Linked DNA regions of Homo sapiens: region 1 is linked to region 2. The links come from fine-mapping of genetic effects on gene expression. A gene starts in region 2. The other region holds a variant in brackets. All regions are shown on one strand. Distances are between the middles of the regions. Region 1 overlaps XPO5 (exportin 5). Region 2 holds the start of XPO5 (exportin 5).

The links.
Region 1: its variant is fine-mapped to the expression of XPO5 in testis (GTEx, PIP above 0.99).

What each region holds. Positions count from the first base shown.
Region 1 is chr6:43,540,075-43,557,061 of GRCh38, reverse strand. It overlaps XPO5 (exportin 5), which reads left to right. Exons shown (of 32, transcript NM_020750.3): 13 at 1,098-1,226; 14 at 3,559-3,689; 15 at 5,609-5,764; 16 at 7,128-7,169; 17 at 7,484-7,573; 18 at 8,602-8,801; 19 at 9,355-9,454; 20 at 10,310-10,491. LOC124901522 (U7 small nuclear RNA) reads left to right here and starts at 14,826; the gene lies at 14,826-14,887. It also overlaps a transcript of POLR1C not described here and LOC124900224. RefSeq lists an enhancer at 8,894-10,093 and a silencer at 14,708-14,757. The variant A/T (reference allele first, on the strand shown) is at 9,703.
Region 2 is chr6:43,572,605-43,585,027 of GRCh38, reverse strand. XPO5 (exportin 5) reads left to right here and starts at 8,990. Exons shown (of 32, transcript NM_020750.3): 1 at 8,990-9,268; 2 at 11,427-11,548. The coding sequence starts at 9,164. POLH (DNA polymerase eta) reads right to left here and starts at 8,843. Exons shown (of 11, transcript NM_006502.3): 1 at 8,588-8,843; 2 at 2,572-2,712; 3 at 1,887-2,021. The coding sequence starts at 2,708. RefSeq lists enhancers at 6,745-7,245, 8,574-8,823 and a silencer at 8,844-9,043.

The DNA of each region.
Region 1 (16,987 bases), 30 kb after region 2:
CTGCCTCTGAGGTTCAAGCGATTTTTCTGCCTCACCCTCCCAAGTAACTGGGATTATAGGCATGCACCACCATGCCCAGCTAATTGTTTTATTTTTAGTAGAGACTGGGTTTCATCATGTTGGCCAGGCTGGTCTCGAACTCCCGACCTCAGCTGATTCACCTGCCTTGGCGTCCCAAAGTGCTGGATTATAGGCGTGAGCCACCACACCCGGCCTTCATTTCTTTTTATTGCTAATATTTCATTGTATGGATATACCACATTTACTCATTTATTCATCTGTTGATGGACATTTGAGTTATTTCCATTTTTTGGCTATTACAAATAATGCTGCTATGAACATTTATATACAAGGTTTTGTTTAGATATAAGTTTTTGTTTATCTTAGATATATAACTAGGAGTAGAATTGCTGGATAATATGGCAATTGCAAGTTTAATATTTTCAGGAACTGCCAGACTATTTTCCACAGCAGCTGCACCATTTTTTATTACCACCAACCTGATTTACTTTTTAAAAATTTTTTTTTTTTTTTTTTTGAGACATGGTCTCACTCTGTTGTCCAGGCAAGAGTGGTGCTGCGATCATGGCTCACTACAATCTTCACCTCCCTGGGCTCAGCTGATCCTCCTACCTCACTCTCCCAAGTTACTGGGACTATAGGAGCATGCCACCACACCTGGCTACTTTTTGTATTTTTTGGTAGAGACTGGGTCTCACTGTATTGCCCAAACTGGTTTTGAACTCTTGGGCACAAGCAGTCTGCCCACCTTGGCCTCCTAAAGTGCTAGGATTTCAGGCGTGAGCTACTGTGCCCAATCCTGATTTCCTTTTAATTCAAACAGAAATGGGAGACTAAGTTTAGTTTGCCACTTACAGGATCTAGCTGGTAATACAGTTTCCAGAGATCATTTATTTTCAAAAACTTCTGGATTCGTTAATAAAGTTTTATTGAGTGATTATTACATGCAAAGCACAAGTCTGCAAAACAGTTCCTTTGAATGCTTTTCCCCTAGGGTGGTAAATTAATAAACATTAAGTACTTATTTTATACCAGTTATTGATTCCTGTCCTTCCCTTGGCATTTTCTCTTGGCAGCCTCCCGAGCACAACAAGGAGAGGTGATGAGGTTGGCATGTCGTTTGGATCCCAAAACTAGCTTCCAGATGGCTGGGGAGTGGCTAAAGTATCAACTATCAACTTTTCTTGATGCTGGTTCTGTGAATTGTAAGTTTTTTTCATTACTGAATGTTAGTGAAATGTTAGGACAGTATCAAAACTATATATAGGAAATGAGCCTGAGCTATACACACATCAGAACGATATACTTATACTATTCAAAAATAGCTTTGCTCATCCTGGAGAGGGAGCGTTTTCATTGGCTGACACAAAGAAAGCAGATGACACATTTTAAATTTGTTTTAAATTAGGGTAAAACCATGTCCTTATCAGTTTTGCCATCATTTTCCATTTCTAACAGAATCAACCAATTATTTATTGTTGATTTTATTTGCTTCACTTCAGGCACCAGCTTAACAAATTTCATGCGTAGACCTAACTTTAAAACTTTTCAGCCAAAGTCTTGCATAGCACTATTCCTGAAATCAGAAAGGATCTCCTGTTAGACATAACAGGAATAATACAGGGACTTCTCATATCACTCAGCCACTCCAAAGCTTTTGTGAAATTATACTTTACATAAATTCAGAATAATCCCCCTCTACCGAATGCCTCAGCCAGTTAACTTCTCTGTACTCCAAATGTTTTGTCTCTCATCTTAATGCATGCTATATGTGTGTGACAGTATTAATAAAGCAAAAAGGCTGGATGCAGTGACTCACGCTTGTAATCCCAGCACTTTGGGAGCCCAAGGCGGGCAGATCACCTGAGGTCGAGAGTTTGACACCAGCCTGACCACCTTGGAGAAACCCTGTCTCTACTAAAAACACAAAAAATTAGCTGCCGTGGTGGCGCATGCCTGTGATCCCAGCTACTTGGGAGGCTGAGGTAGGAGAATCGCTTGAACCCAGGAGGTGTAGGTTGCGGTTAGCCGAGATGGCGCCATTGTACTCCAGCCTGGGCAACGAGAGCAAAACTCCATCTCAAAAAAAAAAAAAAAAAAAAGTGAATTAACTAGTGCACGTCACTGCTTTAGAAAAGCACCATACTACTGGCTGACATTTGAGGGACTTAACATTCAGCTTTATTTACAATTGACTCTAAATTCTCTGATATTTGGTAACTTGAAAGGTTGAGGAAGCCCAAATGTGTTGCACTAAGATGAAACTAGTAAATAGGACTACGCTGTATGTAAGCAAGAAAAGCAATTGGTAAATCTTAGGCCAGGCAGGGTGGCTCACGCCTGTAATCCTAGCACTTCAGGAGGCCGAGGCTGGGGATCACCTGAGGTCAGGAGTTCAAGACCAGCCTGGCCAACATGGCAAAACCCTGTCTCTACTAAAAACAAAAAATTAGCCAGGCGTGGTGGTGGGCCCCTTTAATCCTAGCTACTCAGGAGGCTGAGGCAGGAGAATCACTTGAACCCAGGAGGTGGAGGTTTCAGTGAGCCAAGATCGTGCCACTGCACTCCAGCCTGGGCAAAGAGCGGGACTCCATCTCAAAAAAGAAAAAAAAAAAAAAGAAAAGAAAAGCGGCTGGGCACAGTGGCTCACGCCTGTAATCCCAGCAGTTTGGGAGGCTGAGGTGGGTGGATCACAAGGTCAGGAGTTTAAGACCAGCCTGGCCAAGATGGTGAAACCTCGTCTCTACTAAAAAAAAAAAATACAAAAATTAGCCGGGCATGGTGGCAGGTGGCTGTAATCCCAGCTACTTGGGAGGCTGAGGCGGAGAATTGCTTCAACCTGGGAGGCTAATGTTGCAGTGAGCCGAGATCTCGCCACTGCCCTCCAGCCTGGGTGACAGAGGAGACTCCATCTCAAACAAACAAAAAAAGAAAAGCAGTTGGTAAATCTTTTTGCTTGTGCCTTGCTATTTGAGTGCTGTGCTGTGGTAATAGTTGTAAACTTGAAGGATGGCACCCTTCTCTAGACATAGCCCTTAAGGCTGTCATGAGGCTATTGGATGTGAAGCAGTATTTTGTATATTACATTGTTTCCTTATTGGGAAGATTCTTTATGGTCTCAATTTTAATTATTTAGATTCTCATGGAAAAGATTATAAAGGGGGAGGAGGGGAGAAACTAATTCATGTTTATCAAGTGCCTACTAATGGGCCAGGCAATGTTTTTGATGTTCACCTGCGTATTCTCATTCATTACTCAAAATGGTTTTACTACAAGGCTCATAGAGGTGAATTCAGACCGCTCATTGTTAGAGGAGGAGGAGGCATGGTAGGAACCTTCACCTACCTCATTGCTTTCAGCACACATCATCTTTTCTTTGCCCCAGCTGAGAGGGGTTAGATTACCCTGCTCCTTCAATCATGAAATTCTCAGGTGTTCTCTAAGGCTCCATTGTCTCTCTGTGTCTTCTGCGATCTTTCAATGCTGATAATTGTGTGTGTGTGTGTGTGTGTGTATGTGTGTGTGTGTGTTTTAAAGCTTGTTCTGCAGTTGGAACTGGAGAAGGAAGCCTCTGTTCCGTCTTCTCACCTTCATTCGTGCAGTGGGAAGCCATGACTCTTTTTTTGGAAAGTGTTATCACCCAGATGTTTCGAACACTAAATAGAGAAGTAAGTAATTATTTCCCATGCTGACTGCATGATTATTTTGACCTTTTTCTTTTCTTTTCTCTTTCTATTTTGGGACGCTATATCTCTCTGTTGCTCAGGCTGAAATGCAGTGGCACAATCATAGCTCTCTGTAACCTCCAACTCCTGGGCTCAAGCAATCCTCCTACCTCAGGCTCCTGAGGATCTAGAACTACAGTTACTTGCCACCACACCTGGCTAATTTATAATAAAAATGGAGTCTGTGTTGCCCAGGCTGATCTCAAACTCCTGGCCTCAAGCGACCCTCCTGCCTTGGCCTCCCAAAGTGCTGAGATTGCGGGCATGACCCACTATGCCTGGCCAGTAAACTGGTAGTAGAATAGGAAAATCTATGGATGTACATCTTACAGAAGAGGAAACAGATTTAGAGAGGCTAAATAGCATACTCAAGTTCAAACAGCTAATAAATGGCAAAATGGGGACCAAAACTCAGGTCTTTCTAACTCTAAGCACTACCACATTTAGTATACATTTTAAGTACCACACTGCTTTAGAATACTGTACGCCACCAGTATAGTGGCCACCTGTAGGTCTGAAAAGGAGGGTATGCACAGAGAGCCTCAACTGTATCAGTAAAATCATATTTCTTAAAGTAGGCAGATGAGGATTTACTAAATTATAGAGAAATAGACAAAAGATATAATCCAATAATGTATAGAGGAGAACCTAAAGTAGCTGATAAGCCGGGCGCAGTAGCTCATGCCTGTAATCGCAGCACTTTGGGAGGCCAAGGCTGGCTGATCACTTGAGTTCAGGAGTTCCAGACCACCCTGGCCAACATGGTGAAACCTTGTCTCTACTAAAAACACAAAAATTAACTGGGCATGCTGGTGCATGTCTGTAATCCCAGCTACTTGGGAGGCTGAGGTACAGGAATCGCTTGAACCCAGGAGGCAGAGGCTGCAGTGAGCCAAAATCACGCCAGTGCACTCCAGCCTGTGTGACAGAGTGGGATTCTGTCTTAAAAAAAAAGAAAAGGGTGGGGCGCAGTGGCTCAGGCCTGTAATCCTAGCACGTGGAGGCTAAGGTGGGTGGATCACCTGAGGTCAGGAGCTCAGGACCAGCCTGGTCAACATGGCGAAACCCTGTCTCTACTAAAAATACAAAAATTAGCCGGGCATGGTCATGGGTGCCTGTAATCCCAGCTACTCAGGAGGCTGAGGCAGGAGAATCACTTGAACCCAGGAGGTGGAGGTTGCAGTGAGCTGAGATCGTGCCATTGCACTGGGCAACCAAGAGTGATATATAAATAAAGTAGCTGATAAATATGAAAAACATTCAGCCTCTTGATCAGTTGAAGAAATACAAAATTTAAGAGGTTTTAGGGAATAATACACTGCTGAGAAGATGGTAAGAAGGGCACGCACAGCTGAGTACGGTGGTTCACACTTGTAATCCCAACACTTTGGGAGGCCAAGATGGGAGGAATGCTTGAACCCAGGAGTTTGAGACCAGCCTGGACAATATAGTGAGACCTCATCTCTACTAAAAATTTAAAAAATTAGCCAGGCATGGTGGTGCGTGCCAGTAGTCCCACCTACTTGGGAGGCTGAGGCCGTAGGATCACTTGAAACCAGGAGTTTGAGACCAGCCTGGTCGACATAACAACACTTCTACAACATCTCTACAAAAATTTTAGAAAGTATCCAGGCATGGTGGTGCCCGCCTGTAGTCCTAGCTACTCAGGAGGCTAAGGCAGGAGGATCCCTTGAGCTCAAGAGTTTGAGGTTACAGTGAGTGATGATTGTGCCACTGTGCACTCCAGCCTAGGTGACAGAATGAGACCCTGTCTCTTTAAAAGATGAAAATAAAATGTAGCCAAAATGGTTATTTCTAAGTGGAGGCAGCCATTGTCAACCTGTTTTATGTCTTTGTTACAGGAAATTCCTGTTAATGATGGAATAGAGCTATTGCAGATGGTTCTGAACTTTGATACCAAGGATCCCCTCATCCTGTCCTGCGTCCTTACTAATGTCTCTGCACTCTTTCCATTTGTCACCTACAGACCAGAGTTCCTGCCCCAGGTCTTCTCTAAGGTATAAAGCCCATCTCCTTTGTAAATTTTATTTTGACATTTCTAAGTTAATTTTTATTTATTTTATTTTTTTGGAGACAGGATCTTGCTACATTGCCCAGGCTGGACTCAAATTACTAGTCTCAAGGGATCCTCACACCTCACCCTTCTGAGTAGCTGAGACTACAAGCATGCACAACCATGCCTGGCCTAGGCTAATTATTTTTGTAACTATTTTTAAAATTATGTGAGGCAAACTAATAAACACAGCTATTTATTCATTTATTAAATATCTACTCAGTACTTACTGTGGATCAGGTACCATGCTAGTGCCTCACTCTTTAGGAACACTCTGGGAAGAAAGGCACAAAAACAGTTAATGTTACCTATATGGCATTGCAATGAAGACTTGTATAAAGGAGAGTATTAGAGTGTGCTGTCGGGCAGGGAGGGGATTTATGAGAGGAAGGAACACTTTCCAGGTTTCCAGTTCAGTTGACTAGGTGGGTGATAGAGCCACTCCCTGAGTCAGAATACCAGATCACAAAGGAGAACGGGACTAAAGAAGAGAAAGCATGAGTATTTTGGAATACTGTGTTTGAAGAATATGTAGAACATCTTTATGGAGACATCTCACAATAAATTGGCTATTTGAGGTTGAAGATCTAGACTCTAGAAAGTAATGAGATAAAATTAAAGCATCATCATCATAGTAGTCCCACGACTAAAAGTGAAGTCTTACTGAAGTGATTATGTATGTAGAGTTAGGAGACATGTGAGTCAAGCGAGGAACCTAGTGAATCACCATCATTGGAGGAGTGGAGAAAAAAATGAGAAGCCCCCACAGAAGGAAAAAGAGCCAGAGAAATGAAGAAAATGTTGTGTCACAAGACCAGTAGGACTTCAGAAAAGTGGGCTCATTTGTTGCAAATTATTTGAGTTGGAGAATGCCCAGTGAGTTTCTTGACTACACTCTTGTCTGAGTTTAATTCCATAATAGTGGCCAAGTAAGCAGCCATATTTCATTGGAATGAGGAGTAAATGGGAAATAATGAAATGGAATAGAAGGGATAGACCATACAACTTTTGATAAAAGAAGAGAGAGGCGTTTCCATAGCCAAGTGCTTGGGTGATGGCATGAATTGTTCTGGGATCCTATTGTAAAATGTTTTGATGGTAAAATTGTGACTCCGATGACTCTTGTAGAGGTTATCTGAGAAAATGGACAGTATGAATAAGCTCATGCCCGTAGTCCCAGCTACTCAGAAGGCTAAAGCAGGAGAATCAGTTGAGCCCAGGAATTCAAGTCTAGTCTGGGCAACATAGCAAGATCTCATCTCTAAAACAAATAAACATGAGTGACCTTTTTTCCTCCTCTCCCTTAGCTATTTTCATCTGTCACTTTTGAAACTGTTGAAGAAAGTAAGGTAAGACCATTAATTAAACCAATAGATTCTAACTTCTTGAGTACAAATGTATGAATACCTGATACTCAGTTTATATTTTTATATAAATGGGAGGGGGTAGTAAGGGTGGTAGATTATCATATATGTTGTTTTGCCACTATAGGGCATACAAGAAACATGGATTCTTGGTGGCTATAAATGTTACTCCATTATACTCTTAGGGTTGTGAAAAATCATTGTGAATTTGCCCCTGACTGAGATATTCACATGAGTCTATGCAGCACCTGTATATTATATTAAAAGCAGCTCCGAGTTTGTTGAATGTCTCTTTTCAGGCCCCCAGAACCCGGGCAGTGAGGAATGTGAGGAGGCATGCTTGTTCCTCCATCATCAAGATGTGTCGTGACTACCCCCAGCTTGTGCTGGTAAGCTGCTGGACCCTGGCTGAAGTAGCCAAGTTTGGTTACATTTGTGTGTAAATCCAGCTTTCAGTGTACCTCACATAAAGAAAAAACTAGAAACTATAGCTTTGCATCATATAAGCATCCTTGGCCGGGCATGGTGGCTCACACCTGTAATCCCAACACTTTGGGAGACTGAGGTGGGTAGATCACCTGAGGCCAGGGGTTCGGGACCAGCCTGGACAACATGGTGAAGTCCGGTCTCTACTAAAAGTACAAAAAAATTAGCTGGGCATGGTGGTGCATGCCTGTAATCCCAGCTAGTCAGGAGGCTGAGGCAGGAGAATCACTTGAACTCAGGAGGCGGAGGTTGCAGTGAGCCAAGATCACGCCATTGCTCCAGCCTGGGCAACGAGCGAAACTCCATCTCAAAAATAAATAAATAAACATTCTTGAATTGGTGTTTTCTTAGTATACTTAGTAGTATAGTTAGAAATGTGATGGCAAATGTAATCTCTCTTCAAAATACAAATAGTTCTCTGCCATATAGATTACTAAGTTTACCCCTATAATTCTACAACTCTTTACTATGTGATGATCTTAATTACTACTGCCAAATGATGTGCCTGATCTTGAGAAAAGCAGATGCAAATCACAACCCTTTTTGGGGCATGGGGTTATAAGAAATTTAACATTACTCCAGATTACAAATTATCCAGAAATTTCTTCTCTGAATGCACAGCAGTTATCTCCATATATATATAGATATACATATATATCTATATATATATATAAAACAAGCTGATCTTTTCACAGTTGTAGTATGGGAAAGTGCAGTTATCCAAATACTCAAGACAAGAGCTATCTTCCGCCTAAATTGCCTTGCTTATTTAGGCAAAATAAAGACATATAACAGAATTACCAAATAATAACCTTATAGGCCTGACTTTCCTGGGACTGCTTTGGTTTTCTTCTTTCTTCCTTGAGTAAGCCACCTCTCCTTGAAAATCAGACCTTTACCACCTCTGGCTTTTTTTCTTTTTGATCTGTAGCCCAATTTTGACATGCTTTATAACCATGTGAAGCAACTCCTCTCCAATGAGCTACTCCTGACACAAATGGAGAAGTGTGCCCTCATGGAAGCCCTGGTTCTCATTAGCAACCAATTTAAGAACTACGAGCGTCAGAAGGTGTTCCTAGAGGAGCTGATGGCACCAGTGGCCAGCATCTGGCTTTCTCAAGACATGCACAGGTAAAGGAGATCCCTTGCCCTGACTCTTACTATACTCAAGCACCCATTTTGGTTTAAGAGCTAGGCCCAGGGTGGGGTAGGGGTTAAGGATATTGAAGTGTGATGGCATTATCCATGATATCTGAAGTTCTCTAAAAGCAGTCTTTTGTAATTTAATCTCTGGTTCAATTAGATTGTGGGTGGGGAGGGCACAGAGTGAGACTCCTGTGGTGTCTGCATTGCAGCACCAGCACATTTAGAAAAATGAGAACAGCTAGGAAGGGCCATACAACCACACAGACACTTATCTGTGCTCACACAGTAGAGAAATTATTTTCTTTATATTTTGAAGATTATATTCTTGTTTAATTCTTAAATTGTTACTAATAATATTTGGGAGTGGGAAGGGAAATTTAAACCTTCAAATGACAACTGACAATTAGTATGATTATACTCCTCTCACTATAAAAACTGCTCTTAAGGGCCAAATAATGATAGCCTGTTAACTCCTGTGGAAGAAACTGTCCTTGTTTAAAGTCATGATGTAACTTGTTTTTCCCCCTCCAACCTTCAGAGTGCTGTCAGATGTTGATGCTTTCATTGCGTATGTGGGTACAGATCAGAAGAGCTGTGACCCAGGCCTGGAGGATCCGTGTGGCTTAAACCGTGCACGAGTAAGACTTTCCTGGGAATGGGAAGTGGCATTGGCCATGGGTAGGAGTAGGGTGTTGTCTTTTGTCAAGTTTCTCATAGATTTGTTTTTTCTATACTGGTGAGAAACGTGGGAGTCTCCACTTCCCTAAGCTTCTCCTTTCTTTTCTTCTTTAGTCTTGAATTCTTGAGTTAGTTCCCACAGCAGAGCAGATGGTCTTTTCTATGAAGTCATTATTTTGGCTTTAAGGATCTCTAAATAGCTCTGAAG[A/T]CTGAAGGTGTAATGAGGAAGTAGGTCAGAACTTGGTCAGCAGGGTGAGTCCTCCCTGCCATTGCTCTCTGGCATGTAAAGTCTTAAGTGATGGCTTAACTTGCAAACCTGAGATTTTTCAGTGCTTTGCTATTTAAATAAGCATTGTTCCTGGCTCCATTATGGCACAAGTCCCATTAATTAACCTGGCAAGTAGTAGGTTGATTCAGAGTACCGTGAGGGGGGATTAGGACACTAGCTGTCAAGGCCCAATAAGGGTCAACTCAAAGAAGATGAAGTGATGGCATTTTAAACACTTTGTTTTGGATCGTATCTAAGCCACCTTCTCATCAGGGTCCTGTGGGTGGGTCACTGCAGCTCCTAGAAAGACAGCTTACTGCAAGGGAAGTTTCCAGAGCCTACCACTGGCCCTGAAAATGGCAGTGAGAGGATCCCTCTTGGACTTCACCTTAAAGGAAGGGATGGGGGATTGCCGGGGAGCAGAGGATTATTTCATTCTCTCTGGCCTCTGTGTCACTTTTGCCAGAACCTTGAATATATCTAACAGTATTTGGTCTTTTTTTTTTTTTCCTTTTAATATTTATCTGTCATTCTTATTTTTCTATAGATGAGCTTTTGTGTATACAGCATTCTGGGTGTGGTGAAACGAACTTGCTGGCCCACTGACCTAGAAGAGGCCAAAGCTGGGGGATTTGTGGTGGGTTATACATCCAGTGGAAATCCAATCTTCCGTAACCCCTGCACAGAGCAGATTCTGAAACTTCTTGACAATTTGCTTGCGCTTATAAGGTGAGTCAGAATAATGGCTTTTCTCTGTTGTTTTCTACTTTACCTTAAAAATTTCAAAAGTTTAGTCTGTTTACATGTCTTCATATCTTAGTGGTATTAATGAGGGATTGATTTAAGTCTTATTTCTTTCTAGAGGGTGTCTCAGTTTTAAAAAAAATAACATCAGCTCTCACTTGCATAAATCTTAATTTCCATGTGAACCCAAGGGGATAATCCCAAAAGGGCTTTTCCCATTTTGAGCCTCCTCTTTGTTGTTCTTCCATTTCTTTATACTTCATCCCTATTTTTACTTGTAAGTTTTATTTGGTCTAAATTTTTTAGTAAAGGAATTGCTCATTGGGAGCAGGGCAGTTGCCTTCTATAATGATGCTTGTCTAGGTGGTATTCATATGAGCTAATCTGAATTTATCAATACTGAGTCTGAGCTCAGATGAACCAAACAACCGCTGGCTGAACATGCTAAACAAAGGAATTATAAATTTTTCATCTGAGTTTGCTAGATCCTTGGTTCTCAAAGCTGAGTCCTAAGACCAGTAGCATTAGCATCACCTGAGAGCTTATTTCAAAGGCAGAATCAAGGCCCCACCCCAGACATACTAAATCAGAATCTGCATTTTAACTAGATGCCCAGTGGTTTATATACACATTAAACATTCAGAATCACTGTTTTAGATCACATGAGTTAATATATTCAAGTGGAAGTAGGCCAGTATAGGCTTATCAGTTACTAGATATAGATATTTGATGACTCAGGGATGGTCTCTAAATGAAAAGATAGGTTTTTTTATATAATTCAGTTATTGGCCAAAGAGTGCTTTTTGTATCTCACAGGATTGGTTTTTTTTTTGTTTGTTTGTTTTTTTGAGACAGAGTCTCACTTTGTCACCCAGGCTGGGAGTGCAGTGGTGCAATCTTGGCTCACTGCAACCTCCGCCTCCCAGGCTTAAGCGATTCTTCTGCCTCAGCCACCCAAGTAGCTGGGACTACAGGTGTGCACCACCACTCCTGGCTAATTTTTGTATTTTTAGTAGAGACAGGGCTTCGCCATGTTAGCCAGGCTGGTCTCGAACTCCTGGCCGCAAGTGATCAGTCCACCTCGGCCTCCCAAAGTGCTGGGACTCCAGGAGTGAGCCACCACACCTGGCCTCTCACAGGATGTTTAAATTACATTGTTAGAGCTCTGTTTCAGTACTTTTTGGCCCCTTCTCCAAGGAGTAAAAGCAGTCTCAACGGGGCAAACCAAATTATTCATGTCGCAGTGAAACTCTCCTGGGAATAGACACCCAAGACCTGAAGCCTGAGAACCAAAGATTTTAAGTTAATGTTGACAAATTGGAGGGCTGGAGTGTCTGATAAAGTTGTCATTGTGGACATGTCTGTGGAAATAGACAATATTTTGGCGGGGTGTGGTGGCTCACACCTGTAATCCCAGCACTTTGGGAGGCCAAGGTGGGTCAATCACTTGAGGTCAGGAGTTTCAGACCAGCCTGGCCAACATGATGAAACCCTGTCTCTACTAAAAATACAAAAATTAGCTGGGCATGGTGGCACATGCCTGTAATCCCAGCTACTCGAGAGGCTGAGGCAGGAGAATCGCTTGAACCCGGGAGGCGGAGATTGCAGTGAGCTAAGATCACGCCACTGCACTCCAGCCTGGGCGACAGAGTGAGACTTCCATCTCAAAATAAATAAATAAATAAATAATATTTTCTTTTGATTTCTAAAGGAGGAAAGAGATCTCTGAAAAGAAGTAGGACTTGTACTGAGAGGGTTAAACATTTAGTCAAGAAGAGGCTTATTTCTATCGTGATGTTTTTATTAATAGAGATGGGGTTTTGCCATGTTGCCCAGGCTGGTCTCGGACAGCTGAGCCTGCTTCAGTCTCCCAAAGTGCTAGCATTACAAGTGTGAACCACCACACCCAGCCCCATAGTGATGTTTTTTAAAACCACAAGGTTCTTCTGCAGCTAGAGAAACGTGAAAGTGATGGAAATCATAGGGCAAGAAGCTAATCACCTAGACCTTTTTAGGCCTGTGGCCAGAATCTATGTGGCCAACCCAGACGTGGAAACAGGGTTCATTTCTGGTTGACTCTAGAGGCCACAAGACAACAGTATGATTATCTTTTTTTATATAATTTTCTTTTTTTAAAAAAGTATAATCTCTTTTCAATTTCTAGTCACCTTCCTATCAATCAGTAGAGGAAGATTCTCATGTGTTCACTATGTCTTTCTCCAGTTTTTTCCTCTATAAATTTACTACTCCTATTTTCTATAGAAAGACAATGGAAAGTGTATAATTGCTGTCGGTAGATAAGTAGGTCTTGAATTTATTTTGCAAACAAGACCTGTTCTGTCTATCCTTTCATTTAGGAGGCTAACAGCAGACTCAGCTTGACTTTAAGGACTCTATTTTCTTAGTCTTCAGATGGTTATCATTTTGATACTTTTCTAAGAGTTCAGTGCTTTTAGAGAATTCCAAAAATCAATCAAAAGGCATTTTGAAAAATGCCTAGCATGTAATGATAGAGTAGATTGCTTGAATAGTGTGTAGCTGGAGCTATTAAGAGTTTTGCTTTTTTAGTAAATTTTATTGGCTGGGCGCGGTAGCTCATGCCTATAATCCCAGCACTGTGAGAGGCCAAGGCGCATGGATCACTTAAGGTCAACAGTTCGAGACTAGCCCAATAAACATGGTGAAACCCCACCTCTACTAAAAATACAAAAATTAGCCAGGCATGGTGGCGGGCGCCTGTAATCCCAGCTACTCGGGAGGCTGAGGCAGGAGAATTGCTTGAACCTGGGAGGTGGAGGTTGCAGTGAGCCAAGATCACAGGGAAGAGTCTTCCCTGTCCCTGGGCAACAGGGAAGACTCCGTCTCAAAAAAGAAAAAAAAAATTAAATAAATTTTATCTTGAAGTGTAACATTTATGTAGAAAAGGGCTTAACTTGTGAGTGTGTGTAGATGAATTTTCACAAAGTGGACACATTCATGTAATCAGCACTCAGATCAAGAAGCAACTTTACCTAATACCTCTTTTCAGTAATTACCTGCCCCTCAAAGATAACTACTATTCTGATTTGTATTTATTTATTTATTTACTTACTTACTTACTTTTGAGGCACGATCTTATCCTGTCGCCCAGGTTGGGGTGCAGTGTTGCGATCACGGCTCACTGCAGCCTCGACCTCATGGGCTCAAGCAGTCCTCCCACCTCAGCCTCCTGAGTAGCTAGGACTACAGCCATGAGCAGCCATGCCCAGCTAATTTTTAACTTTTTGGTAGAGATAGGTTCTCTCTATGTTGCTGAGGCTAGTCTTGAACTCATGGGCTCAAGAGATCCTCCCAAAGTGCTGGGATAACAGATGTGAGCCACCTCACCCAGCCCACTATTCTGACTTTTAACATTTTGTCCAGGTTTTTGAACTTTGTGAAAATGAAATCAGAAGTATGCACCTTTTGGTGTCTGCCTTCCTTTCGCTCAATATTTTGTTTCTGAGGTTCATCCATGTTACTGCATGAATGTACTTGTGTTTTTTTTGTTCTCCTTGCTTGTATGATACTTCATTGTGTGAATATGCTGTAACTATTCAGCCTTGATGGACCTTTGGGTGATATTTTAATATTACATATCATGCTGCTGTTGACATTCTTATGTCAAATACGTTTTGTGAACATATATATATAATTTCTGTTGGATACACACATAGGAGTAGAATTCCTAGCTTATAAGAAATGTGTATTTTCTGTTTTTATAGATGCAACCTGCTTTTTAAAGTGGTTATACTAATTTATATTCCCACCAGTTATATGCTGGAGTTGGGAGTTTTAAATTACTATTTTTTGGCTGGGCACAGTGGCTCACGCCTGTAATCCAAGCACTTTGGGAGGCCGAAGCAGGTGAATCACTTGAGGTCATGAGTTTGAGACCAGCCTGGCCAACATGGTGAAACCCCGTCTCTACTCAAAATACCACCACCACCAACAAAAAAAATTAGCTGGGCATGGTGGCAGGTGCCTGTAATCCCAGCTACTCAGGAGGCTGAGGTAGGAGAATCGCTTGAACTTGGGAGGCGGAGGTTGCAGTGAGCTGAGATCATGTTACCGTACTCCAGCCTGGGCAACAGGGTAAGACTCCATCTCAAAAAAAAAATTGAAAAATAAATAAATTACTATTTTTTTAGTAGAGAAAAGTTTGCTTTAAGAATGTAGCAAGGTATTCATAGCACCTCCTGCGTCAAATAATCTGATAATAGAAGGTGTTGAAGCTGTGCTGTCCAGCATGGAAGCCACTTGCCACATGAAACTATTGAGCACTTGAAGTATTACTAGTCAAGTGTTACAGTACTTTCAGAATTGGTCTGGTAGGCTTTCCAGTTTTCTCTGGAAAGCTCCTTAGAGAAAAAAAATAAAAATTAAAAAATAAAAATGACTAGCCTGAATTGAGATGAACTGTAAGTATAAAATACACACTAGATTTCTAAAATCGGCCGGGTGCGGTGGCTCATGCATGTAATCCTAGCACTTTGGGAGGCTAAGGCCTTAGGCAGATCACTTGAGGTCAAGAGTTCAAGACCAGTGTGGCCAACATGGTGAAACCCCATCTCTACTAAAAATACAGAAATTAGCCAGGCGTGGTGGTGTGCATGCTTGTAACCCCAGCTACTCAAAAGGTTGATGCAAGAGAATCACTCGAACCCAGGAGATGGAGGTTACAGTGAGCTAAGATCGTGCCACTGCACTCCAGCCTGGGAGAAAGAATGAGACTCTATCTCAAAAAAGAAAAAAAGAAGTATTGGATTACTACAGTACTTACAAAATGAAGTACTGATAATTACTACACTGTGGATCAACCTTCAAAACATTATGCTAAGTGAAAGAAGCCAGACACAAAAGGCCATATGTTGTATGATTTCATTTTTATGAAATATCTAGAGACAGAAAGTACATTGGCGATTGCCTCAGGTTGGAGAGGAGAAGAAAGTGTAGATCAACTGCTACTGCTTAATGGGCCTGGCAGTTATTTTGGGGGCCATGGAAACGTTTTGGAACCAGGTAGAGGTTACTTATGCAACCCTTTGAAAGTATTAAATACCACTGAATTGTGAACTTTAAAATGGTTAGGTTTTGGTGGGGATGTTTTTTGTTAGTTTTTTAAAGTTTTGTGGGTACACAGTACATACATATATTTATGGGGTACATAAGATGTTTTGACACAGGCATGCAATGCATAATAATAATCACATCAATTAAAATGGGGTATCCATCCCCTCAAGCATTTATCCTTTGTGTTACAAACAATCCAGTTATAGTCAACTGCAGTTATGCTTTTTAAATGTACAATCAAAATTATTATTGACTATAGTCACCCTATTGTGCTAGGAAATACTAGATCTTATTCATTCTTTGTGGGTTTTTTGTACCCATTAACAATCCCTACCTTACCCCTAACCCACCACTACCCTCCCCAGCCCCTCTGCTAACCATCCTTACACTCTGTATGTCCATGAGTCGAATTGTTTAAATTTTTAGATTCCACAAAGAGTGAGAACATGTGATGTGTCTTTCTGTGCCTGGCTTATTTCATTTAGCATAATGACCTCCAGTGCTATCCATATTGTTGCAAATGACAAGATCTCTTTTTTTTTTTATGGCTGAATAGTACTCCTAAAGTGGTTAGTTTTATGTTATGTGAATTATGCCTCAATTTTTTAAAATCTTAATAAAAATAAAGCTGGTTCTTTGAAAATACTAGTGATAACATCAGTAAATTCAAAAGCTTAAGAAAAATGGGGCTGGGCATGTTGGCTCATGCCTGTAATCTCAGCACTTTGGGAGGCCACAGCAGGAACATTGCTGGAGACCAGCCTGGGCAACGTAGCAAGACCCCATATCGATTTTTTAATTTATTTTTTTTGAAACGGAGTGTCACTCTTGTTGCCCAGGCTGGCATGCAAAGGCATGATCTCGGCTCACTTCAACCTCTACCTCCCAGGTTCAAGCGCTTCTCCTGTCTCAGCCTCCTGAGTAGCTGGGATTACAGGTGTGTGCCACCATGCCTGGCTAATTTTGTTTATTTATTTATTTATTTTGAGACGGAGTCTTGCTCTGTCGTCCAGGCTGGAGTGCAGTGGCGCCATCTCGGCTCACTGCAAGCTCTGCCTCCCAGGTTCACGGCATTCTCCTGCTTCAGCCTCCCAAGTAGCTGGGACTACAGGTGCCCGCCACCTCGCCTGGCTAATTTTTTGTAATTTTAGTAGAGACAGGGTTTCACCGTATTAGCCAGGATGATCTTGATCTCCTGACCTCGTGATCCGCCCGGCCTGGCTAATTTTGTATCTTCAGTAGAGACAGGGTTTCACCATGTTTGCCAGCCTGGTCTTGAACTCCTGACCTCAGGTGATCCCCCCTCCTTGGCCTCTCAAAGTACTGGGGTTACAGGCGTGCGCCACCATGCCCAGCTAATTTTGTATCTTCAGTAGAGACAGGGTTTCAT
Region 2 (12,423 bases):
AACACCATGTCTAGCTAAATTTTTTTGTTTTTGTTTTTGTTTTAATTTTGGTAGAGACGAGGTCTTACTATGTTGCCCAGGCTGGTCTCAAACTTCTGAGCTCAAGCAATCCTCCTGTCTCAGCCTCCCAAAGTGCTAGGATTACAGGCGTGAGCCACCATGCCCAACCTATCTGTATCCTTCGTAATATCCCTTATAATAAACATAAGTAAGTGTTCTCCTGAGTTCTGTGAGTCGCTTCAGCAAATTAATCAAATCCAAAGAGGGGGTTGCAGGAACCCCAACTTAAAGCCAGCTGTTCAGACGTTCTAAAGGCCTGGACTTGTGATGGAAAGGAAGGAGGGGGTGTTCTTGTGGTATTGAGCCCTCAACATGTGGAATCTGATGCCATCTCCAGGTAGACAGTGTTGGAATTGAGTGCGAGGACATGCAGCTGGTGTCTGCTGATTGGTGTGTGGGGAAATACTTCCACACCTTTGGTCACAGATGTCTTCTGTGTTGATTGTTCTTGTGGTGTGAGAGGAGAGGAAAACCATAGTTTGAGTTTTTCTAAAACAATACTCTATTTCAGTGCTTCCTCACAGCCTCTTGAGCAAATCACTGCAAGGTATTTTTAAGAGTATTTGGAAAACTTAATCTTCAGTCAAGTCTATCTTCTTTTCTAGCAATAATTCCAATGTGGGTCTGTATGCCACTCTACCTTTAGACTTCTAATTCATAGAATTAGAATTAGAATTCAGAAGTATGTCAGGTCCTAAGTCAAAGCATGATTCCTATACCACAACACATAGTATAGTGTACCTTGAGAACATAGATACTAGAATCTTAAAAAACAGATGTGAATCCTCAGTCTTTCACTTAGCTGTCTGAACTTTTCTCTTTCTTGAGACAGGGTCTCACTCTGTCACCCAGACCGGAGTGCAGTGGTGTGATCTGGGCCCACTGCAACCTCTGCCTCCCAGGCTCAAGCAATCCTCTCAACTCAGCTTCCTGAGTAGCCGGGACTGCAAGTGTGTGCCACCATGCCTGGCTAATTTTTGTATTTTCTGTTAGAGATGGGGTTTCCCCATGTTGCCCAGGCTGGTCCCTATGTTGCCCAGGCTGGTGTCCTGGACTCAAGTGATCTGCCCGCCTCAGCCTCCCTAAATGCTAGGATTACAGGCATGAGCCACCATCCCCAGCCTAACTTAAATTATTTAACTTCTCTGAACTTGATTCCTTATCTGTGAAGGGGGAGTAATATTAGTACCTACCTTATAACAATGTCAGATTTAATAGAGATATTGCCTATAGAGAGCTTAACACTGTGCCTGGCATGTGATAATATGTTTAATACATATTAGCTGTTAGGATTAAAGGCTGGGGTTTGTGCCTACCTCTGACTTAGCTATGCTGATTCATATCCCCCATTCCAAGGTGAAACTTCTAATATTTGCGGAGAGATAGCTTAATCTAAAAACAGAGAAATCTCCCTTGATATTGTTCAATTATAGCAACTAATTCCTGATATTGTACTACAATGTCAGTTTGACTCAGCCTTTCCTGGAAAAATTCTCAGTTTCACAGTCAATTTTTCAAATACTTTAGATTTTTGGATGGAGAACATGGGAATTGGTATTAAGTCTGAATTTAACAACCAATTTTGAACAATTAAGGAACTGAATAGATATCAAAGGCAGCAACTCTTATATGGTATAATGGTTTTGAACTGTCCCCAAAACACAATATTAAAATCTGTTTTTCATTTCACAGAGACAAGATGGCTAACCAAAAAGAATTTTTTCCGGTGTTATTTACATGGAACAAATTCAAAACACCAGTTCCTAGCCTCATGGAGTATTATTTTCGACTCCTTTATGTCTCCTTAAATAATGTTTTTTTCTTACTTGGTGAGGTTAGCTTTCCCACGGGACTCACGAACTTGTGCCAGTAGAAGATCTGGACATAACTTCTTAGCATCATCTGCCCACATACTTCTAGTGACTCCAAATGCACGAGCTTCATAACTCACTGCAATTATTCTAAGGTTAGAAAAAAAAGGAAACAGAAAACATATTATATGATCACAAGCAAAAACAAGTAACATTTAACACAAGTAATCTATAAACATATTAGAAACTTTTTGACCACAGATGCCATCATTCAATCCAAAACAAAGCAGTTCAGAAATCTCAAAAATAGGGCCAGGCACAGCAGCTCATGCTGGCAATTCCTGTACTTTGGGAGGCCAAGGCAGAAGGACTGCTTGAGGCCGGGAGTTCAAGACCTGCTTGGGCAATATAGTGAGCCCTGCCCCCCCAACCAATCCCCATCTCTACCCACCCCCCAAAAAATAAAATCAGCTTGGCATGGTGGGGCGCTCCTGTAGTTCTAACTATTTGGGAGACTGAAGAGGGATGATCACTTGAGCCCAGGTCAAAGCTGCTGTGAGCTGATGGTGCCACTGCGCTCTGGATGGGACAACAGAGAAAGGCCCTGTCACCACCACCACCACCACCACAACAACAAAGGACCTGCCACAGTGCCACTGTGTTACCATTGAATAGTTGTGACAATAACAATGATACATACCCACCACCCTTCCATGATTTGTACTGTACAACTGCACAAGGTTTATTCCTCAAATGAGGATTTTGCCGCTGCTCCACTTGAACAAAAAAACAGTCCATGTCCACGAGAGCAACCACTCGATCCTGTCCAGTAGCCATTTTTCTGTAACACAACATTTTATGGACAGTTAGAAAAACACCTAATCCAAAATGCCAGGGAAAACTGTAATTCCATTCTTTCACTGATGAGTTACCATGAGCATGGGAGCATGGAAACTAACAAGAATGAAATAGGCATTTAAATATACAGGTTGAGTATCCCTTATCTGAAATGGCTGGGATCCAAAGTGCTTGAGATTTTGCATTTTTTTCAAATTTTGCAATATTTGCATTATAATCACCAGTTAAGCATCCGTAATCCAAAAATCCTAAACCTACAATGCTCTAATAAACATTTCCTTTGAATGCTGTGTTGGTGCAAAAAATTTTTTGGATTTTGGAAGATTTCAAATTTCAGATTAGGGATACCCTGAGTGGAAAAAACAGTTTTTAAGATTCTTTCACTCGATCTTGAGAGGAGGTCGCGGCGCCGGAGGCCCTAGAAGGCTCGAAGGCGCCGCGGGCTGGGGTCGGTGGCTTAGGGAGCCCGTCCGGCCATGGTGGCCGCGGGTGGTGGTTGGCGCGGCTGCGCTGCGGCCCGGGGCAGTGCGGAGCCGGGACAGTCGCGGCGCTGACGCCCGCGGGCCCCAGCTGCAGATATGAAGCGGAGCCGCTGCCGCGACCGACCGCAGCCGCCGCCGCCCGACCGCCGGGAGGATGGAGTTCAGCGGGCAGCAGAGCTGTCTCAGTCTTTGCCGCCGCGCCGGCGAGCGCCGCCCGGGAGGCAGCGGCTGGAGGAGCGGACGGGCCCCGCGGGCCCGAGGGCAAGGAGCAGCCGCCTGCCTTGGCCTCCCAAAGTGCCGAGATTGCAGCCTCTGCCCGGCCGCCACCCCGTCTGGGAAGTGAGGAGTGTCTCTGCCTGGCCGCCCATCGTCTGGGATGTGAGGAGCCCCTCTGCCTGGCTGCCCAGTCTGGAAAGTGAGGAGCGTCTCCGCCCGGCCGCCATCCCATCTAGGAAGTGAGGAGCGCCTCTTCCCAGCCGCCATCACATCTAGGAAGTGAGGAGCGTCTCTGCCCGCCCGCCCATCGTCTGAGATGTGGGGAGCGCCTCTGCCCCGCCGCCCCATCTGGGATGTGAGGAGCGCCTCTGCCCTGCCGAGACCCCGTCTGGGAGGTGAGGAGCGTCTCTGCCCGGCTGCCCCGTCTGAGAAGTGAGGAGACCCTCTGCCTGGCAACCACCCCGTCTGAGAAGTGAGGAGCCCCTCCGCCCGGCAGCTGCCCCGTCTGAGAAGTGAGGAGCCTCTCCGCCCGGCAGCCACCCCATCTGGGAAGTGAGGAGCGTCTCCGCCCGGCAGCCACCCCGTCCGGGAGGGAGGTGGGGGGGGGTCAGCCCCCCGCCCGGCCAGCCGCCCCATCCGGGAGGGAGGTGGGGGGGTCAGCCCCCCGCCTGGCCAGCCGTGCCGTCCGGGAGGGAGGTGGGGGGGTCAGCCCTCCGCCCGGCCAGCCGCCCCGTCTGGGAGGTGAGGGGCGCCTCTGCCCGGCCGCCCCTACTGGGAAGTGAGGAGCCCCTCTGCCCGGCCAGCCGCCCAGTCCGGGAGGGAGGTGGGGGGGTCGGCCCCCCGCCCGGCCAGCCGCCCCGTCCGGGAGGGAGGTGGGGGTGTCGGCCCCCCGCCCGGCCAGCCGCCCAGTCCGGGAGGGAGGTGGGGGGGTCAGCCCCCCTGCCCGGCCAGCCGCCCCGTCCGGGAGGTGAGGGGCGCCTCTGCCCGGCCGCCCCTACTGGGAAGTGAGGAGCCCCTCTGCCCGGCCAGCCGCCCCGTCCGGGAGGGAGGTTGGGGGGTCAGCCCCCCGCCCGGCCAGCCGCCCCGTCCGGGAGGTGAGGGGCGCCTCTGCCCGGCCGCCCCTACTGGGAAGTGAGGAGCCCCTCTGCCCGGCCACCACCCCGTCTGGGAGGTGTGCCCAACAGCTCATTGAGAACGGGCCATGATGACAATGGCGGCTTTGTGGAATAGAAAGGCGGGAAAGGTGGGGAAAAGATTGAGAAATCGGATGGTTGCCGTGTCTGTGTAGAAAGAAGTAGACATGGGAGACTTTTCATTTTGTTCTGCACTAAGAAAAATTCCTCTGCCTTGGGATCCTGTTGATCTGTGACCTTACCCCCAACCCTGTGCTCTCTGAAACATGTGCTGTGTCCACTCAGGGTTAAATGGATTAAGGGCGGTGTAAGATGTGCTTTGTTAAACAGATGCTTGAAGGCAGCATGCTCGTTAAGAGTCATCACCAATCCCTGATCTCAAGTAATCAGGGACACAAACACTGCGGAAGGCCGCAGGGTCCTCTGCCTAGGAAAACCAGAGACCTTTGTTCACTTGTTTATCTGCTGACCTTCCCTCCACTATTGTCCCATGACCCTGCCAAATCCCCCTCTGTGAGAAACACCCAAGAATTATCAATAAAAAAATAAATTTAAAAAAAAAAAAAAAAGATTCTTTCACTCAACAACAATCAATAAGGTAGACTTCTGTGACCAAATGTGTGAGGATTTCTCCCCACCAACAAACAAGCAATCAATTCTGCAGCAGACACCAAGTGGGTATCCTCCAATTCGAGTCTGACATTATCTACCTGGAGAAAGCGTCAGATCTCACAGGTTGATGGCTCAGTCCCACAAGACTGCCCCCTACTTCTGATGCCAATCACAAGCCACAGGTTGTTTTACCTGTGCTTCTAACTGACTGGATATAAATTGGGAATCTCATGAGCCCCTCTTTGGGTTCAGTTAATTTGCCAGAGTGGCTCACAGAACTCAGGTAATCAAATTTACTAGTTTATTATAAAGGATATACAGATGAAGAGATACACATGGCAAGGCATGCCCTCCCTGGGAACACCACTCTCCAGGAACTTCCTTTTGCTCCTATCCAGCAGCTCTTCGAACCCTCTCCTCTTGGGCCTTTTATGGAAACTTCATTGGATAGGCATGACTGACATCCGTGTAGAAATGTGACTGGACAAAAAAGATATGATCTAATACTAATAGACTGGGGAAACCCAGCAAGGCCTGTCCAGATTCTTCCTGGCCTCTCTGGGTAGCATTCCTTTCTCCAGGGTATGGGGTAGGAACTCTTCTGAAATGAAAGTCTTATGACCCATAATCAGAAAGGCAGGGGAAGATTAGAGTCCTGCTTTGGGCAGGTGAAAGGAGGGCAGAAGGCCAGAGAGAGATTCTGTTTTCTGAGGCTTGCTTCAAGAGCTCCAACATTATAACGAAAGCTAGGGGAGTTATGAGCTAGGAACCGTGGACAAAAACTAACATACATATATCACAATATCACAGATACTCAACCTGTACTGCTGGCATAAGGATAAATTAGTACAATTTTATGAAGGCAATAGGTATTAAAAGCTTTAAAAATACTTATCCTTAAAAGAACTAACCACAAAATACAAACATAGCCAATTGGCACATAAAAATAGGCTCACCATCATTAGTCATGGGGAAATGGAAATTAAAATGCACATCACCAGGGGAAGAGAACCAATACGGAATCAGTTGACAGACAAATCTCAAGTATAAATTCAGAGAAAAGAGAAGGAGAAAATAATATATAACATCATAGCATTCATGAAAAATGTCAACCTTTTACTCTGAAATACTTTTAGACTTACAGAAAATCGCAAAAATGGTAGAGTTCTCCTACTCCCAGTTTCCTGATGTTAACATCTTACTTAACACAATTACCAAAATTTAAAAATGAACATTGGCATATTATTAACTACATACTTTACTGCCCCCCAATCTGTGGCATTTCCTCGGTTGTTCCTTGTTTTTCATGACCATGACACTTTTTTTTTTTTGAGACAAAGTCTCGCTCTTGTCCCCCCGCCAGGCTGCTTTAAATACTACTGATATTTGACTTCCACAACTATATATACTAACTTAATTGGTATGGGTATGACCTGGGCATGAGTTTTTTGTTGTTGTTGTTGTTTTTGAGTTAGAGTTTCGTTCTCGTTGCGCAGGCTGGAGTGCAATGGCACAGTCTCGGCTCACTGCAACCTACGCCTCCCGGGTTCAAGCGATTCTCCTGCCTCAGCCTCCTGAGTAGCTGGGATTACAGGCGCACGCCACCACGCCCGGCTAATTTTTGTATTTCGAGTAGAGACTGGGTTTCACCATGTTGGCCAGGCTAGTCTCTAACTCCTGACCTTAGGCGATCCACCCACCTCGGCCTCCCAAAGTGCTGGGATTACAGGCGTGAGCCATCGCGCTCGGCCTAGCATGGGGATTTTTTTTTTTCCTAGACAGAGTCTCCGTCTGTCACCCAGGCTGAAGTGCAGTGGTGAGATCTCAGCTCACTGCAACCTCCATCTCCCGGTTTCAAGTGATTCCTCTGCCTCATCCCCATTAGCTGGGACTACAGGCGCGTGCCACCCCGCCCGGCTAATTTTTTGTATTTTTAGTAGAGACGGGGTTTCACCGTGTTAGCCAGGATGGTCTCGATCTCCTGACCTCGTGATCCGCCCGCCTCGGCCTCCCAAAGTGCTGGGATTACAGGCGTGTGCCACCGCGCCAGGCCGGGGATTTTTAAAAGCTCTCCAGGTAATTCCAATATGCAGCAGTTTGGGAGCCAAGACCTAAATAAGACAATCGAAACACCAGCAATCCATGATTTAAATACGAGAAACACAGGTTATACAGTTGAGTGAGCACCCAACTGTATTCTAAAAAAAGTTTTTCAAAAACTAACATTCACCTTGAAAAAAAAAACGTCTTACAACTGCAAAGCAGGAAGGTGAGTGGAAAGAAAAATAATTAAAATCAGAGCAGTCAAAGCATTAATTCCTTATAAATTCCAATCGACCACGCCTAAAACAGGCAGAATGTGATACTTTAAACATTTACAAGTTAAAACTATAACATGCCAGAAGTCCCTCTACTTTGAAGTGGCTTTTCAGTAGTACTGGAACAGACTGAGCCAACAAATAGTATTGTAACACAAAAAAACACAGGCTAAGCACCATATTAGATCCAAATACCAGAAGTGGAGCAAGAATAGGAAGCAGTGATTTATGTTCAGCACACAATTTACTAAGCACACAATCACAAAAACAGACATGCAGACTTTAACAGATAATAAAGCTGTTGAGGTTTTCCGTTTATGTATTTACTGGAGAAAGCAAGAGCTTTATTTATTTATTTTTGAGACGGAGTTTCGCTCTGTCGCCCAGGCTGGAGTGCAAAGGCGCGATCTCGGCTCACTGAACCTCCGCCTCCCGGGTTCAAGCGATTCTCCCACCTCAGCCTCCCGAGTAGCTGGGATTACAGGCGCGCACCGCCACGCCTGTATAAAAATACTAAAAATGCAAACATAATTTTTGTATGTTTAGTAGAAACGGGGTTTCACCATGTTGGTGAGGCTGGTCTCGAACTCCTGACCTCAGGTGATCCGCCCGCCTCCGCCTCCCAAAGTGCTGGGATTACAGGCGTGAGCCACCGCGCCCGGCCAAGAGCTTTATAAAGATGGAAAATGAAGAAGACTTTCTGCCCAAGCCATGCTTTTGGATAAGGATTACACTACTTTGAAACCTTATACATAGCACTTGGCCAATTATCAAAACTGCACAAACCTTCACTGATTGCAATTATTCCCTTTAAACATCTCGAGTTACCCCAATCCGCACAAAACAAGTTTAGTGCCCACCAGGTAATAATACATCCAGGAAAGTAATTCCAAGAGAGAGGTTTAACAACTACAGGGAAAAACATACTTTTTTCTACAAGAAAAATCTTAGAAGACAGTACCAGGGCCTTATCCCTGTTAGCATGATTTATATTTCACGCAACCTTGGCCCAGTCACTGCTACATTATAAAACCAATAGCCAAGGCAACATAGAAAGTCTGAACACAGTGACAGCGAACGGTTCTAAATTTTCTTACCAAGGTAACAAACACCTGGCAAAACTGCCAGCAGCGGTTGCCGAAAATGCTGGGTTCGGTGCCTACTGGAAGGAAAATGGAAGGGCTCCTGAATATCTTTTCGCCTTTCTAGGAGCGGTCCAGTGAGTTTCGAGCGAGATTTATTCCCTGTGACGACGGAGAAACCGAGAAGGGATCGTAAAGGATCCTGCCCGGGCAACCGTCCCCAGCAGGGATCAGACGAGAGCGGCGCGCCCAGCAATGCAGCCGCCAGACTGAGGTCTGACAGCGCGCCCGCTGCGAAGGGCCGTTGACGCGGCTGCGCACCGCGGCCCTTCCGCCTCCCGCCCCGCCCACCTAGGCTCAACCTGCACACGGGAGCCGCCACTTCCGCGGGCGCGTGCGCAGTGGCGGGCCGGGCGCGTGCGCAGCGCCGGCTTCTTCCCAGCGCGAGTTGCTGCTAACGCTCCTCCTCCAGCTTCCCACCCCCGCCGCCCGCCGCGGCCCGGTACCAACGGGTGGTCTCGCCGAGGGAGCTGTCGTGCCTCGTGGTCCCGGGACTGCAGTGGTGTGCGCTCTCGGCGCGTGGCGCTAGGCATGGCGATGGATCAAGTAAACGCGCTGTGCGAGCAGCTGGTGAAAGCGGTGACGGTCATGATGGACCCCAACTCCACCCAGCGCTACCGGCTGGAAGCCCTCAAGGTAGCTGGGGTCCTGGCGTCCTGGGCCGGTCCCGACACCCTCTCCCAGCCCCAGCAGCTCCGGCGCCGCCTGTAACTGGGGTAGTCTCCCGCCCACGCGGCCCCTGGACCTCCTTTCCCAACTCCCCGGGACCTTCCCCTCGCGGCCCTCCGCGCCTCTCCCAAATCGCCGCCTTCTCTACTCGCCGCTCCTGTCCTTTGCCTGGGACACTCCGGTCCCTATGCTGCTTCTCATCTCGCCGCAGCTTCCCACAGCCCTCTCCTCCCCCTTTCCTCGCTTCTGTGCACTCTTGTCCGCAACATGACCCTCGCCCATTTTCATTCCCCAAGCCCGACATCCCCTCGCCTTCCCGAGGCGCACGTGTAGATCCCGCCCCCAACACCAGCTTCGTTCTTTATGGTCTCTCCTGCACTAAACGTTTTCCTGCTGGCCCACTCCCCTGGCCCTGACCGAGCTCCAGCCCCTCTGGTACCCTTATGCTTATATGCTTTAACATCTCGCTAACTTTCGTTTGTGTCTTGGACATTTTCCGGGGAAATTCTCGCACCCCTACTTCTCCCATGTTTTTGAGTGTAATATTTTTAGGCTATTTTGCGCAAAGATAACTTCTACCACTTACTTTGCATTTTAACAAGGGCACTTTGGTTTCCTGAAAGTAGTTTGCGTGAGACCCGAATGCTCTGCTCTTGGGACTGACTTATGTTGCAGTTTGGGGGTGTTAATACAATTCAAGCTTACTTGCCCATAAAACAACGTGTGTGGGCTGTGAGAAATGGCCATTTAGGAGAAAATACTTGTGCTGTACATTTTTAAAGTGATGTTAACTTCAAAAAAGAGAGTGACCACCACTTGGAGGAAATGTTACAATATGTAGATGTCTGCCACAGGGTTTGGAATCAGAAACAATTGGGTTCCATTAGTTTGGTTTTTATTATTAATATTTAAAATAGACACAAAAGTGGAGAGAATACGACAGTGATTCTGCATGTTCCTGTCACCTAAATTCAGCAATCAAAGATTTTACCGCATTTACTTTTTCCACCGCCTATCCTCTCTCCCTGCCTCGAAGGTTTTTAAAAGAAACCCTAGAAATTGTTATTTCACCCCTATGTACGTCAGGGGGATGTCTCTAACAAATAATTTCTTATTCCTTTGTGTCCATTTTTTTCCAACACTAGTAGGGCTACTGTTGGCCGTAGCATGGAAAAAATCTGGAACCATCACGCTGGAAGGAATGTTTATCAGTTCTTTATTCATAATATATATATAATATATACACATAAAATAGAGTGAACACCACTTGGAGGAAATGTTATATATGTGTAACTTTTATATATTTTATATTTTTATTTTTATATTAAATATATATTTTTAAAGCAACTGTGCTTGGAGATCCACATAATATTGATCTAGGTTTTGCAACTTTAAACATATAGCTTAGGTTGGAGTTTCTTTTTGAGTAGGGTCTCACTCTGGTTGTCCAGGCTGGCGTGCAGTGGTGAGATCTCGGCTCACTTCAGCCTTGATTTCTCGAGCTCAAGTGATTCTCCTACCACTTCAGCCTCCTGAGTAGCTGGGATTACAGGCACCTGCCACCATGCCCGGCTAATTTAAAAAAATATTTTTAGTGGGCCGGGCACAGTGGCTCACGCCTGTAATCCCAGCACTTTGGGAGGCCAAGGCAGGTGGGTCACCTGAGGTCAGGAGTTCAAGACCAGCCTGGTCAACATGATGAAACCTTGTTTCTACTAAAAATACAAAAATTAGCTGGGTGTGGTGGCGTGCACTTGTAGTCCCAGCTACATGGGCTCAGGAGGCTGAGGCAGGAGAACTGCTTGAACCTGGGAAGCAGAGGTTGCAGTGAGCCGAGATCATGCCATTGCATTCCAGCCTGGGCGACAGAGTGAGACTCCGTCTCAAAAAAAAAAAAAAAAAATATATATATATATATATATTTAATAGAGATGGGGTTTCGCCATGTTGCCTAGGCTAGTCTCAGACTCCTAGACTCAAGTAGTCCACCCATCTCAGCCTCCCAGAGTGCTGGGACAGGTGTGAGCCACCGCACCCGGCCCTGGTTGGAGTTTCTTAAGATGAAATTCTTTTAGTCCCTATTCTCTCAGCCCTCGAAAGGAAACACTAACTTTTCTTCTTTCAGTTTTGTGAGGAGTTTAAAGAAAAGTGTCCTATCTGTGTCCCCTGTGGCTTGAGGTTGGCTGAGAAAACACAAGTTGCCATCGTCAGACATTTTGGCCTTCAGATCCTGGAACACGTTGTCAAGTAAGGAGCTCTTGGACATTACCACTGAAGTCTGAGAGAACAGATCTTTATATCTTATATAACCTATAGAGATGCTGTTTAGGTGAGTAGAGAAGAGCAATCTCCAAGAAGAGAGGAATGATCCCCTAGATGTTATCAGAACCTCACAGGAGCTCTCATTCAAGATTTAACCTTTCTTTTCTTCAGTTTCTTCATCCATGTAAAGTGTGTGGTACATATTACCCATTCAACAAATATTACCTGCCATTTAGCCAATACTTACTGAGCTCTGACTATATGTCATTAGCCCTCGAAGCCTTTTTAGAGTAATGCAATGTATAGGTCAATGAATCTCTGATTAGGCACTGTGGCTTTCTTTTTTCTCTCTGTCTTTCTGAGTTTGTGTGCCTTCTCTGGGTGGTACATCCAAAGCAGGATTGTATGAGAATAACTGAAAACCCATCCTAACTTGATTGTCCTACCCTCAACACCTATCAGAAGAGGTAGCCTTTAAGACTTAGCCATAGTTTTTCCAGAATTGTTTTGTAAGCCAGCACAGAAAATGACTGATGTCAAAACTGCATTTTCTGAAAAGCAAGTACATTGTTGCAGTTGACCTAGATGTATATTCACTTTTGGCCCATCAATAAAATCATGAGGCAAAGCTGACGTGTGGTACAAATCTTGTGCGGATTCCAGTTAATGGACCACTGCATATATAAAACCTTTTCCCAAGAATTTTTGTGTTAGTATTTTGGTTAAATGTAGATCATTTTTGCCCATTCATTGACAGGTACAAAATCAAAAGTATAATTTCTTAATGAAATCTCCAGTGTAATCAAATGTAGAAATCCATGCTATTCTCTTGTAAAGACAAGACTTCTAAAGTGGTTCTA